Homo sapiens: one gene and its partner. The protein of the gene in region 2 interacts with the protein of the main gene of each other region in a pairwise test. Each region holds a gene or a part of one and is shown on either strand. Other genes may lie near its edges. The genes, in order: PTCHD1 and METAP2.

What was found.
Region 1: the proteins of METAP2 (region 2) and PTCHD1 interact in a two-hybrid assay, tested with the Homo sapiens proteins (one study listed by BioGRID and IntAct).

Annotation. Positions count from the first base shown.
Region 1 is NC_000023.11:23,386,753-23,394,051, forward strand, and holds part of PTCHD1 (patched domain-containing protein 1), read left to right. Parts: intron 1-5,778; coding exon 5,779-7,299. UniProt on the Homo sapiens protein: Required for the development and function of the thalamic reticular nucleus (TRN), a part of the thalamus that is critical for thalamocortical transmission, generation of sleep rhythms, sensorimotor processing and attention. Can bind cholesterol in vitro.
Region 2 is NC_000012.12:95,512,062-95,516,548, reverse strand, and holds the end of METAP2 (methionine aminopeptidase 2), read right to left. Parts: intron 3,749-4,487; coding exon 3,633-3,748; intron 2,898-3,632; coding exon 2,645-2,897; 3' UTR 710-2,644; downstream 1-709. UniProt on the Homo sapiens protein: Cotranslationally removes the N-terminal methionine from nascent proteins. The N-terminal methionine is often cleaved when the second residue in the primary sequence is small and uncharged (Met-Ala-, Cys, Gly, Pro, Ser, Thr, or Val).

The DNA of each region.
Region 1 (7,299 bases), on a different chromosome or scaffold from region 2:
AATGTAGTAATTTTATTTCCATATATGAAATTTGGCACTGCCCAGGCATGCTATAAACAGCTTCATTGACTCATGATATTAAATGTTTTCACACTGAAACTGAAAGATCATCCATCAATCAGCAAGCCATCCCATTTCCTCCTTCTTAGCCATTCCTTACTTTGAGGAACTCAGGATGAGGAAATCCTGCTAGTGTGGAGAGGTTTAAAATGTGAGTAGCACCCAGCGGCATCTCTCAGCTGCTGTGTTGTGGCTATGTATACTGGGACAGGCGCGAAAATCTGGGACTGAAGAAAAATCTGACTTACAAAATCCAGAAGTATTATACAAAGTAGATCAATTTGCCTACGATTATTCATTGAAAACCAAACAACAACAAAAAAATCACCCAGACTGTCTCCAATAGCAAAACCACTAAATACATTTAAAATATTATTCACTTTATGAGCAACTTTCCAGAAGTATATCTACTGGGTAAAGAAAGGTTAACTCTCAACTATTTGTTAGTAGATTCTGTCTTACCGGATTATAAACAACCCTGAAGGCTTTGGTCAGGCCCCAGAAAGTTCTGGGTGACAGAATTAATCTCTGAGGGTGCTTGATAGTCACCCTCAGTGATGGGAGGATTAGCCAGTTGAATTTTTTTTTCCGCCATTAGTGTTATTTATCATGTGTGCTTCTTTTTCCCTTCATTTGCTCCAAAGTCTGAGAGTTAACAACACATTCAGATATAAAAATTCTTTTGAGAATAAGAAAAATTATTAGCCTAAATTCTTTAGTATTTTATTTTATTAGATGACAACCCCAAAGTGTACTGCAAATAAAATTAATAAAAGCAGTTTTCTTTTTAAAATCACACTCCCGGCCCAAATTTTGCCTCAACATTAGTGAAGAGCCCTGCTGGCCTGACAAAAACCTCGAGCTGCCTCAGAGTATTCACTCACGAATAATTAGAACTTGGCGCTCCCTTCAATCTCTCTCTCTCTCTTTCTCTTTATGTGTGTGTGTATGTGTTTTTACATACTGATATGCATTTGTTCTTATGCATGTAACAATACAGACATGCAGGGTAACAAAAATAGAAACAAACATCTTGAATATGCTTTTAAAGGACAAGAGAATGCTTTAGAAGCATTTTTATCTTCAAAATCTGATAGAATCAGTATGTGTTTAACAGTTCCCGTTGGCAACTCCTCAGTCCTGCACTGTGACTGTAAAAGAAGGAATCCCCTGGGATGTTGTATCATCCAGGGTAATCCTTGGAATGTGAGGATGTCAGGATGTGGAGGTTCCTGATATCCTCACTGTGATATATAGTCTTTTTACCCCAAGGTCTCAGGCTGCGACCTGGCCCTCAAATGATGAGTCATGACTCCCAATAACACCACAGGGTCCCTACTGACCAAAATCAAAATCTGTATTTAGGTAGCTCTGCCCTGGCCCCACCCCATGAGTTCTGTCACCAGGGAGTCCTTGTGAACAGACTTGGGACTTTGGAGATGGGAAATTGTTATTTGCCAAAGTCATGCTTTGTGCCAATGACATAGGCCCACTGGTCAGATTTAACAGAGAAGCTTATAGAACTCCTACTTTGTAGAGAAGTTTTTAAAACTAGAGTGCAAAGCAAACAGCAGTACTTTTGCTTTTAAAACACCTTTTTAAAAAGTAGGAAACAACAGTCAGACCTCTGAAAAGTATCTTCAGTCCACATGCAATATCTGTTTGCCTACGTCTGTAAGATTTGGCGTCAGAGTTCCGCTTGCTGAACTACAGCCCCAAAATTAGGAGAGTGGGTTGTGCGTGGTGGCTCATGCCTGTATAGAATCCCAGCACTTTGGGAGGCCGAGGCAGGCAGATCACCTGAGGTCAAGAGTTCAAGACCAGCCTGGCCAATACGGTGAAACCCCATCTCTACTAAAACTACAAAAATTACCTGGGCGTGGTGGCATGTGCCTGTAATCCCAGCTACCCAGGAGGCTGAGGCAGGGGAATCGCTGGAACCCGGGAGGCCGAGGCTGCAGCGAGCAGAGATTGTGCCACTGCACTCCAGCCTGGGAGACAGAGTGAGACTCCGTCTCGAAAAAAAAAAAAAGCAATGAATGATGATGATGCTAAAGGAGGTAGCCATCCACTGAAAGAGGAAAGTGGAGAGGAACAGAACCTACCAAAATCTATCTTCTCTGCCTCTCCTTGACTCCAGGTGGCCCAGTTTCTGGAGTGCTAGTAAAAGATAAGGTCAGACCTGACTGAAGGAAAAACTGAAGAAATTCGTCTCTGTGAAATTCTCCTACCTGCCATTTCCTCTTTATTCCATTCCCATGTCCATTCTCTGTCCCATTCCCCAGACCTAAGGGAAGCTGCTTCAGTAGACCACTGTCCCAGAGGAGTTTACATTTAAAAGGATACCCTTGAAAGTTCCAAGGGGAACTCGGATATAATTCCGGCATTCTGGAGGGCAGGATGGTCCTCGTGTCCTAGGGCTTTTGGAATGTGTCTCCCCTTGAATCCAGGCCAGAACACAAGAGTCCTCACCGATGGCCTTTCCTATAGGATAACAGGCCGACCTCTTCAGCAAAAATACCCAGCTATGAGCCAGGACAGCTGCCAGCCAGGCACTCCAGGCTGTTAATCCTTAAGAGGTGACCACAGCTATGTTAGCACTTGTCCCTCCCTTGACTGACAAACCTTCAGGAAGGAGGCCCAGTTATGGTATCAGCAATTGTCCCAGAAATCCAAAGGGCTCTTGTAAGATGCTGTAGAACTCCAGTTTGGGGATTCGGGTGTAGCAATCTGCTCGAGAGGTGTGGCTTGAGAAAGGAATCTGACCTATCAGGAATGGTGGTCGGGGCCTTTGGAGGCAAAGTCAGGCACAACTAGCAACAAATGCTGAGTGATCGGTTAGAACAAATTCTTTCTCAGGGCCTCTTCTGATTTCTGTGAGTGGCTGCATGTACACACCTGTAGCAAGAAGGAAGAACTAAGGAAAGGCATCGTTTCCAAAAGCCCCTCAGAAGAAAATTAGAATTCTCTTTGGAGCTGCCCCCAAACCAAGAACATATGCAAAAAGAGCCAGGACTCAAAATAAAAGATCAAACTATAGAAGGACAAGGCATTTAAAATGCAGCAACAGAACTCAAGAGAGAAGCTAACAGCCTACTTCCACCTTTCCTTGATTTTGATTACTTTCATTCTTGACCCTGGAGCCTCAGTCTTGTCACCTAATATCTCTGTTAATTCAAATTCCTTTTCTCAATTAGCTTCTAAGATTATTCAACAGCAAGGTATGAAATTGATTCTTATTGTATTTTCCAAAAATCAGGGTCAGATAATGTCATTATAAAACATCACACTGATTTTTAAAAGAACTGCAAAACAGATTTAAGTTCTATTATATGACTAATTCTAATTCCGCTATATGCTTTATTTTCTTGCCATATTTAATAACTCAGTACTAAAACCCTGTTTAAATTTTTTGTTTCTGGCAAGTAAATATCATTAAAAAATTATTTGCCATTTATAGTGATCCCCTGAAGTGTGCTTTGCCCACCAAAGCTTACTTGCTCTACATGGCCCCAGGAAAAAAAAAAAAAAAACAAAAAAAACAATATTATTTCTTCAGGGACAGTGCCTCAGAAGTATTCTCTTTTTACCCTCATTGTCAAGAGAATGGTTACTTAATTAAAGGTCAGTGGGTCCATCTTGAAAATATACTAGAAACAGATTTAATCATGTTCCCTCTCCAGACTAGATGTTAATACCTAAGCATAATTAACAACAGGATGCCAGTCAATGAGTGTACTTTTTACTTCATATCTGGGGAGTTTAGGTGCCTTCAATTTAATAGGGGCCTCGGTGCTAGTTAACAAATTGACAGTCTTGACCTGACTTCTAAAAGTGGCTGTAAAACGATGCCTAGTCAATTAAGATAAATGCCAAATTCCTCTGAGGAAACAGGCCTAAATCATTACTTTGAAATGGGCATTTCAGGTATGAGGCCAGGACTTCACAATAAGGATATAAATACTAGCTTGGGCATGAGGGAAGATGTACACCTAGCTATTGTACACACAAGATAACAGTGACTCACTTTATTCAGCATTATGCTTGGCTGGAGATTTTAAATTCCTTTTTAAATACAAGACTATTGTACCACAGGGTAAAGATTTTATTATCCTCAATAATGGGATTGAATATGCCAAGGCGATGGAAGCAGGAAATTAGATCTGCTGATCCCCATTGCCAAGACAGGAGTTATCGAAATCCACAACGGGTCACTTTGGTGAGCCTTCCAATGTTGCAGTGGCCTGGAAACACAGGGACTCGAAGTAGGGAAATGTCTGGCTCCAACTACGAGAGGTGGTAGAAGTCATGCTAGATCAGGTTCCAGGCAGCAGAATGGAGTTTAGAACATGAGCATTTACTGTACCTCTGCTATTTCAGTATTGCTGAAATACTAAACCAGGAGGCGAAGGCACTAAGCAGTTACGCAGCGGGGTTACTGATCTGGCTCTTTCCCACAGATGCCACTATCAAATAGCGCGGAGAAGCTAGCAGAGTCGCTGCTGACGTATTATATCACTGCTTGATAAGTCATGTATGAATAACCAAATTGGTCAAACAGATCCCTGAAGACAAATTGCAAGTCATAAACCTTCAACCTGAATCCTAATTTTTATCAATAACCAGGAGAGTTCATATTTATCTTATTTTTTCTGTATTTTCTTCACTGAAACTTCTTCACTCCTACTTATTTTGCTTCCCTCTTTCTAAGATTTATTGCTTCCTGCCCTGATATTTGGGGAGGGAAAACAGAGGGGGCTGTGATTTAGTTTCCTGTCAAGACTCAAATGAAATACACTGCCTCTTTATCACTAAAACCCTCTAGTTGGCAAATTTTAAATGAGGTGACAGGACATTAACTCAGAACCCTCTGCCCACTATCTTCCTCTGCACTGACCCCTAGCCAGACTTGTGGGGACGGAAAGCAAAATGATGAGTGTCCAGACATCTTCTCTTCTCTGGAGCGTTCCACCAACCAAACTGCACCAATAACTCTAAGCTATTAATGGGAAAAATCCCCAAGAGACATATGCACAAGTCTAATCAGCTTTTATTCTTTTTAGAGTCAGGGTCTTGCCCTGTTGCCCAGGCTGGAGTGCAGTGGCACAATCATGGCTCACTGCAGCCTCCAACTCCGAGGCTCAAGAGATCCACCTGCCTTAGCCTCCCAAGTAGCTGGGACTACAGATATGAGCCACTATTCCTGGCTAAGTTGTTTCATTTTCTTTCTTTTTTTTTCTTTCTTTTTTCTTTCTTTCTTTCTTTTTTTTTTTTTTTTTGAGAGATGAGGTCTCGCTACATTGCCCAGGCTGGTATCAAACTCCTGGTCTTAAGTCATCTTCCTTCCTCAGTCTCCCAAGTTGCTAGGATTACAGGCATGAGCCACCATGACTGGCTCTACTCAGCTTTCTATAGGCAAAAGTTCATCTAAGTGCTGTTTGTTTGGTGGAACACTCCAAAGAAGAGAACTTTCTTAAGCCAGAGGGAATATGAAGATCTTTGCTTCTCTAGCTGCCCTTTCGTTATCCATTAACATTTACGATTCATAAAAACATGGGTCTATCTCCGCATAGGAGAAATCATTGGCATTTACATACCCGTCACCACTAGGGTTGATTACGTTTCCTTTGACCCAGTAGTCCCTCATAATCAAGTTGATTTCCCTCTTAAGAGATTAGTTCTTTAAACTTCTGCTCTGGTCTTTTTCTGCCCTCTTAGGTCATGGATTATATGGGACTTTTGAAATGTTATCCTCCTGGAGGAAAACTAGAGAAGACCAACATGTTAAAGAGAGAACTGCAGCAGTCTATGCAGACTCCATGCTCTCCTTTTCTCTCACCACTGCCATGTACCTGGTCACCTTTGGCATAGGGGCCAGCCCTTTCACGAACATTGAGGCAGCCAGGATTTTCTGCTGCAATTCCTGTATTGCAATCTTCTTCAACTACCTCTATGTACTCTCGTTTTATGGTTCCAGCCTAGTGTTCACTGGCTACATAGAAAACAATTACCAGCATAGTATCTTCTGTAGAAAAGTCCCAAAGCCTGAGGCATTGCAGGAGAAGCCGGCATGGTACAGGTTTCTCCTGACGGCCAGATTCAGTGAGGACACAGCTGAAGGCGAGGAAGCGAACACTTACGAGAGTCACCTATTGGTATGTTTCCTCAAACGCTATTACTGTGACTGGATAACCAACACCTATGTCAAGCCTTTTGTAGTTCTCTTTTACCTTATTTATATTTCCTTTGCCTTAATGGGCTATCTGCAGGTCAGTGAAGGGTCAGACCTTAGTAACATTGTAGCAACCGCGACACAAACCATTGAGTACACTACTGCCCAGCAAAAGTACTTCAGCAACTACAGTCCTGTGATTGGGTTTTACATATATGAGTCTATAGAATACTGGAACACTAGTGTCCAAGAAGATGTTCTAGAATACACCAAGGGGTTTGTGCGGATATCCTGGTTTGAGAGCTATTTAAATTACCTTCGGAAACTCAATGTATCCACTGGCTTGCCTAAGAAAAATTTCACAGACATGTTGAGGAATTCCTTTCTGAAAGCCCCTCAATTTTCACATTTTCAAGAGGACATCATCTTCTCTAAAAAATACAATGATGAGGTCGATGTAGTGGCCTCCAGAATGTTTTTGGTGGCCAAGACCATGGAAACAAACAGAGAAGAACTCTATGATCTCTTGGAAACCCTGAGGAGACTTTCTGTCACCTCCAAGGTGAAGTTCATCGTCTTCAATCCGTCCTTTGTATACATGGATCGATATGCCTCCTCTCTGGGAGCCCCCCTGCACAACTCCTGCATCAGTGCTTTGTTCCTGCTCTTCTTCTCGGCATTCCTGGTGGCAGATTCACTGATTAACGTCTGGATCACTCTCACAGTTGTGTCCGTGGAGTTTGGAGTGATAGGTTTCATGACATTATGGAAAGTAGAACTGGACTGCATTTCTGTGCTATGCTTAATTTATGGAATTAATTACACAATTGACAATTGTGCTCCAATGTTATCCACATTTGTTCTGGGCAAGGATTTCACAAGAACTAAATGGGTAAAAAATGCCCTGGAAGTGCATGGGGTAGCTATTTTACAGAGTTACCTCTGCTATATTGTTGGTCTGATTCCTCTTGCAGCTGTGCCTTCAAATCTGACCTGTACACTGTTCAGGTGCTTGTTTTTAATAGCATTTGTCACCTTCTTTCACTGCTTTGCCATTTTACCTGTGA
Region 2 (4,487 bases):
TCTTTTCTAATTTCAAGGACTATTTTTAACGTTATACATTTTAGCACGTCATTTTAATGGAACTGTAAAAACTCCTGAGCTATTTGTAATGGTATCGTTGCTTGTACTTATTTCAATATAAAAACATACAAGAGGCCGGACGCCATGGCTCATGCCTGTAATCCCAGCACTTTGGAAGGCCGAGGCGGGCAGATCACAAGGTCAGGAGATCAAGACCATCCTGGCTAACACAGTGAAACCCCATCTCTACTAAAAATACAAAAAAAAAAAAAATTAGCCAGGCGTGGTAGCATGCATCTATAGTCCAGCTACTCAGGAGGCTGAGGCAGGAGAATAGCTTGAACCCGGCTGCAGTGAGCTGAGATCGCGCCACTGCACTCCAGCCTGGGTGACAGAGCGAGACTCCCGCTAAAAAAAAAAAAAAAAAAAAAAAAAAAAAAAACAAAGTGACTTAGCCCTTTACTTTTTAATCCCTTAAAACTAACAAACACCTATGGGGGGAGGCTTGGAAAAGGGGGATATTATTGGGGGGGGGTCTGGGAAATCTGTAGTACTTTCCACTAAATTTTAGTGTGAAAAATGTCTCAAAATACCAACAATAAAATTAAAACCTAAACAATAAACAGAAACTTAGATTTCTTACTATTTATCTTAAATCTCAACATGGACGTCTACATTCTGCTAAGTTGATCTAACAAAAAACAACATGTTTTAGTTGTAAAATAATTTACTAAAGGCACTATTGTTAAACATCAAACTAATAACTTGTTGCCAATAAGGTACATCGTTGTAAACATAACAAAATTTTAAGAGATACATGGCTAATAAGCAAACAATACAATTTTTAGTTACAGCTTTCCTACTTACAAGATCATGTCCCTTCCAGCCATTACAAGGGCATACAGTGATGCCATTGCTCCCAACAGTTACCTGGGAAGGGAGCTTGGAGCTCCTAATTGGTTTGAGATCATGACTGCCAAGGTCTTTAAAAGCTCCAAAAGTCTTCACTCATAAAGGTCAATTCTAAAATTGCTGGGTTTAGAAATCAAGATACTTGCTTTATACTTCCACATCAAAAAGATACGGACTCAACCCCAAAGGAGCTAGCTGGAGGGCCCAGCCCTGACAGTATGTCCAGGCATGAACTGGCGAGCTCTGCTGCTAGCCACAGCATCACAGAGAATGGAGACATTAGTCAAATGTGGCTACTGAACATTAGCACCATAATAAACATAGCTCATACAGCTAAAACCTAGATTGTTTCCCGACAAGGTAACATTCATTTATAGCTCTAATGCTGAAAGAGCAGCTTTTTAATGTAACAGATGATCTAGGTACACAAGTCATAGGTTTCTCTTCCTAGGATAAAAACGTTCAACAAAATACAAACTAAACAGCATCCCAGAGGCAATAAAATCTCATTGTACTGAAACATATACAAATTAAGGCTACCTTGATATATAAATGATTTAGAAATTATGATGGAACATTCCCATAAAATTATTTAAATATAAGAATTCAATTTGTCAAAGAATCAGTAGTGGGCCTCAGTTCAAACAAATTAATATTACCATCGTTACATTCAACTTAATACACTTAGCCGCTATAAGGAAAGTAACTGTAACGTCACTTCCTGAAATACCACTAGTAATGTTAAGAATCCAAACCTGTCAAAGGGGAAGGTATTACAGCATTTGCCTCATGAATGAAAAAGTCCAAGAATTTCAACTTAATTTTTCTAACTAGAACAAGATCCAAACATGGGAAGTTTTTTTTTTTCTTCTTTGCTTTTGTGGCTTTAATACCCTTTTGGTTTTCTGAGCAAGCTGAATACATTCCCTGATAAACACCACCACTGGACAAAGGATCTAAACATTGAGATTTTTACTAAATCAAGGTTTTGAGTTGGCACAATGTTCCTACTAAGTCAAGTTTCAATTAGCACATCTTTCCAATGTCAGGAGAAAAAAAGACAAGGACTACTATGTCCTACAAAGAATGGTGAAATATTCCTAAAGCTGTATATTTATGAAGAAAAGGTGATTGTCCCTTTTTATGCATGTGTAGATCTTGTTTTAGCCACTATGCCAGAAAAGTCTCAGTGTAGAGGTCTACATTTCAGATAAATGTCTCTGCATTTGCCTACATTAAGTTTAGCTATTTATCCTGTCCAGAATTATAACCACAGACATTGAGATGTAGCTCTCAGATCTGAAAATGTCTTTATTTTTTAGAAAATGGATTCCAGGAAGGTTAAAAAGCAACACCAGAGGGTATAGGTGCAGAACTGGATGTAGTCATTCAAAGCATTCAAGTAAGAATATGGCAATATAAATATCCAAAAAGTATCTCTTAGGTATTCAAAACAAAACGTATAAGTCATTCCTAACTAATTTGAGCTTTATAGCATTTTCCTAGACAGGAAGGGGAAAAACAGTTAGCATTTAAAAGTCCGGAAAGCTTTTTCGTTGGTTAATTACATTAGACGGTTTGCCTTTGTCCAAATTCCTTCTTTTTTAAACATGGATAAAAGTATTACATGGGTCCACTGTTAAAACAGACAACATGTGGCAAATTAATTCTGGTATCATGTTTTCCAACAAAGCTCAGAAAATAAAGGTGTTGAGGTGGCTTTGGACTAAGTTTAATAGTCATCTCCTCTGCTGACAACTTCTTTACATGTTGGACGCAACAGGATGGTATGTTCAAATTGCGCTGTATATGATCCTTTAATGTCACATAATGGTGGATATGGATCTACAATGCCCAAGTCACACAGATTCTTCAGAGCCATCAAGTATTTACTTTCTCCCAAGCGATCCAGCCATCTGCGGCAGAAGGCAAGGGTTCCAAAGTTTTCATTGATGACATTTAACAAGTGTTTTGTTCTTGGAAGCCTAAGAGGAGAAAATCCAAAATTAACTGTTGGCAAAAGAGTTACGAACTGATTTCCCTCATTAAGAAAAGCCCAGACCTTAGCTGTGTCCTAGTAGTTGAAGTCCAAAAACTTTTATTGTTGCTCTTTCAACAATCAAAAGCCAGAATGTATAATAGCCCATACCTAATTATAGATGGCAGCTGAATAGGACACCAGCTGGAGGCCATCTTATCATGTTTACGTGTCTACGTGCGCGCGCGTGTGCGTGTGTGTGTGTTATATTCCCCACTAGAGACCTACTACAGGGTATTATGATGTGAATTTCCTTTTGTGTGCAGCAAGCTCAAAGACCTGCATATAAAAGATGTAAATGCAGATTTCAATCATCTTCAAATGTTAAAAAATTTCAATGTAAATTGAAAGACGCTGTAAATGGAAGTTTACCAATGGAAAAATATTAAAGCAAAAACCTAGGAATGCTAGCAAAATAATCTCTGACATTTATGATTATCAGAAACCGGACTTGAAGAGAGCACTTGTGTGTGTGTGTGTGTGTGTGTGTGTGTGTGTGTGTGTGTGTAATTTTTATCTCAGTTAAAATGTTTAACAGGCTATTTTTTTTTCTTATTGTTGGGCTACAGAACTCTACATTCATGAATATACTATTTTGTATGTATGCCACATTTTTTAGAAATGCTGTTAACTCAGAAGAGATGCTAATTAGCCACATAAAATCAATCGTCTCGTCTCTCACCTTATTGGCACATGTCCAACATCAAAATTTTTCATGTAATGTGAACATTCCATATCATCATGAACAACACCTTTTCCTGTACTACCAAAGGTTTCAATTGCATATACTTCTCCTTCCTGAAAAATAAATAAGGGTCAAGGGGAGAGAAAGAAGAAAAATTCAGAACGAATCACAATTACCATCTCTCTTTCTCTCTCTCTCTTTTTGAGACAGAGTCTCTCTCTGCTGCCAGGCTGGAGTGCAGTGGTGAGATCTTGGCTCACTGCAACCTCCACTTTCCAGGTTCAAGCGATTCTCCTGCCTCAGCCTCCCGAGTAGGTGGGACTACAGGCACGTGCCACCATGCCTGGCTAATTTTTGTATTTTTAGTAGATACAAGGTTCCACCATGTTGGCCAGGATGGTCTCAAACTCCTGACCTCACTCAGGTGATCTGCCTGCCTTGGTGTCTCAAAGTGCTGGGATTAACAGGCCTGAGCTACCGAGCCTGGCCTACAATTACCATCTCTTGAAGTCTCTACCTGATTAAGCAGCAACATGAAATAGCCCCTGGCGGTCCTTATCTAGCCTTGCCCTGCTTTATCTCCTTAGCACTTTTTGGTCTTTCTGCTTCCCCCTATGAATTATGTTCACAGCTCTACCCCTAGAGCCTACTATAAAGAGACTGGCACCTGAGAATGCTCAATAAATATTCATTAAATGTTGAATAAACAACCCTTTCACAGCCCCAATTTCCACAACTGATTTAGTGCTGACTATACACAATTTGCAAATTCAAATGGCCCAATTCCTGGCAGGGTGAATATGGATGATAAGCAGCTAATTCTGGTCAGTATAACCATATATTTAACTACCA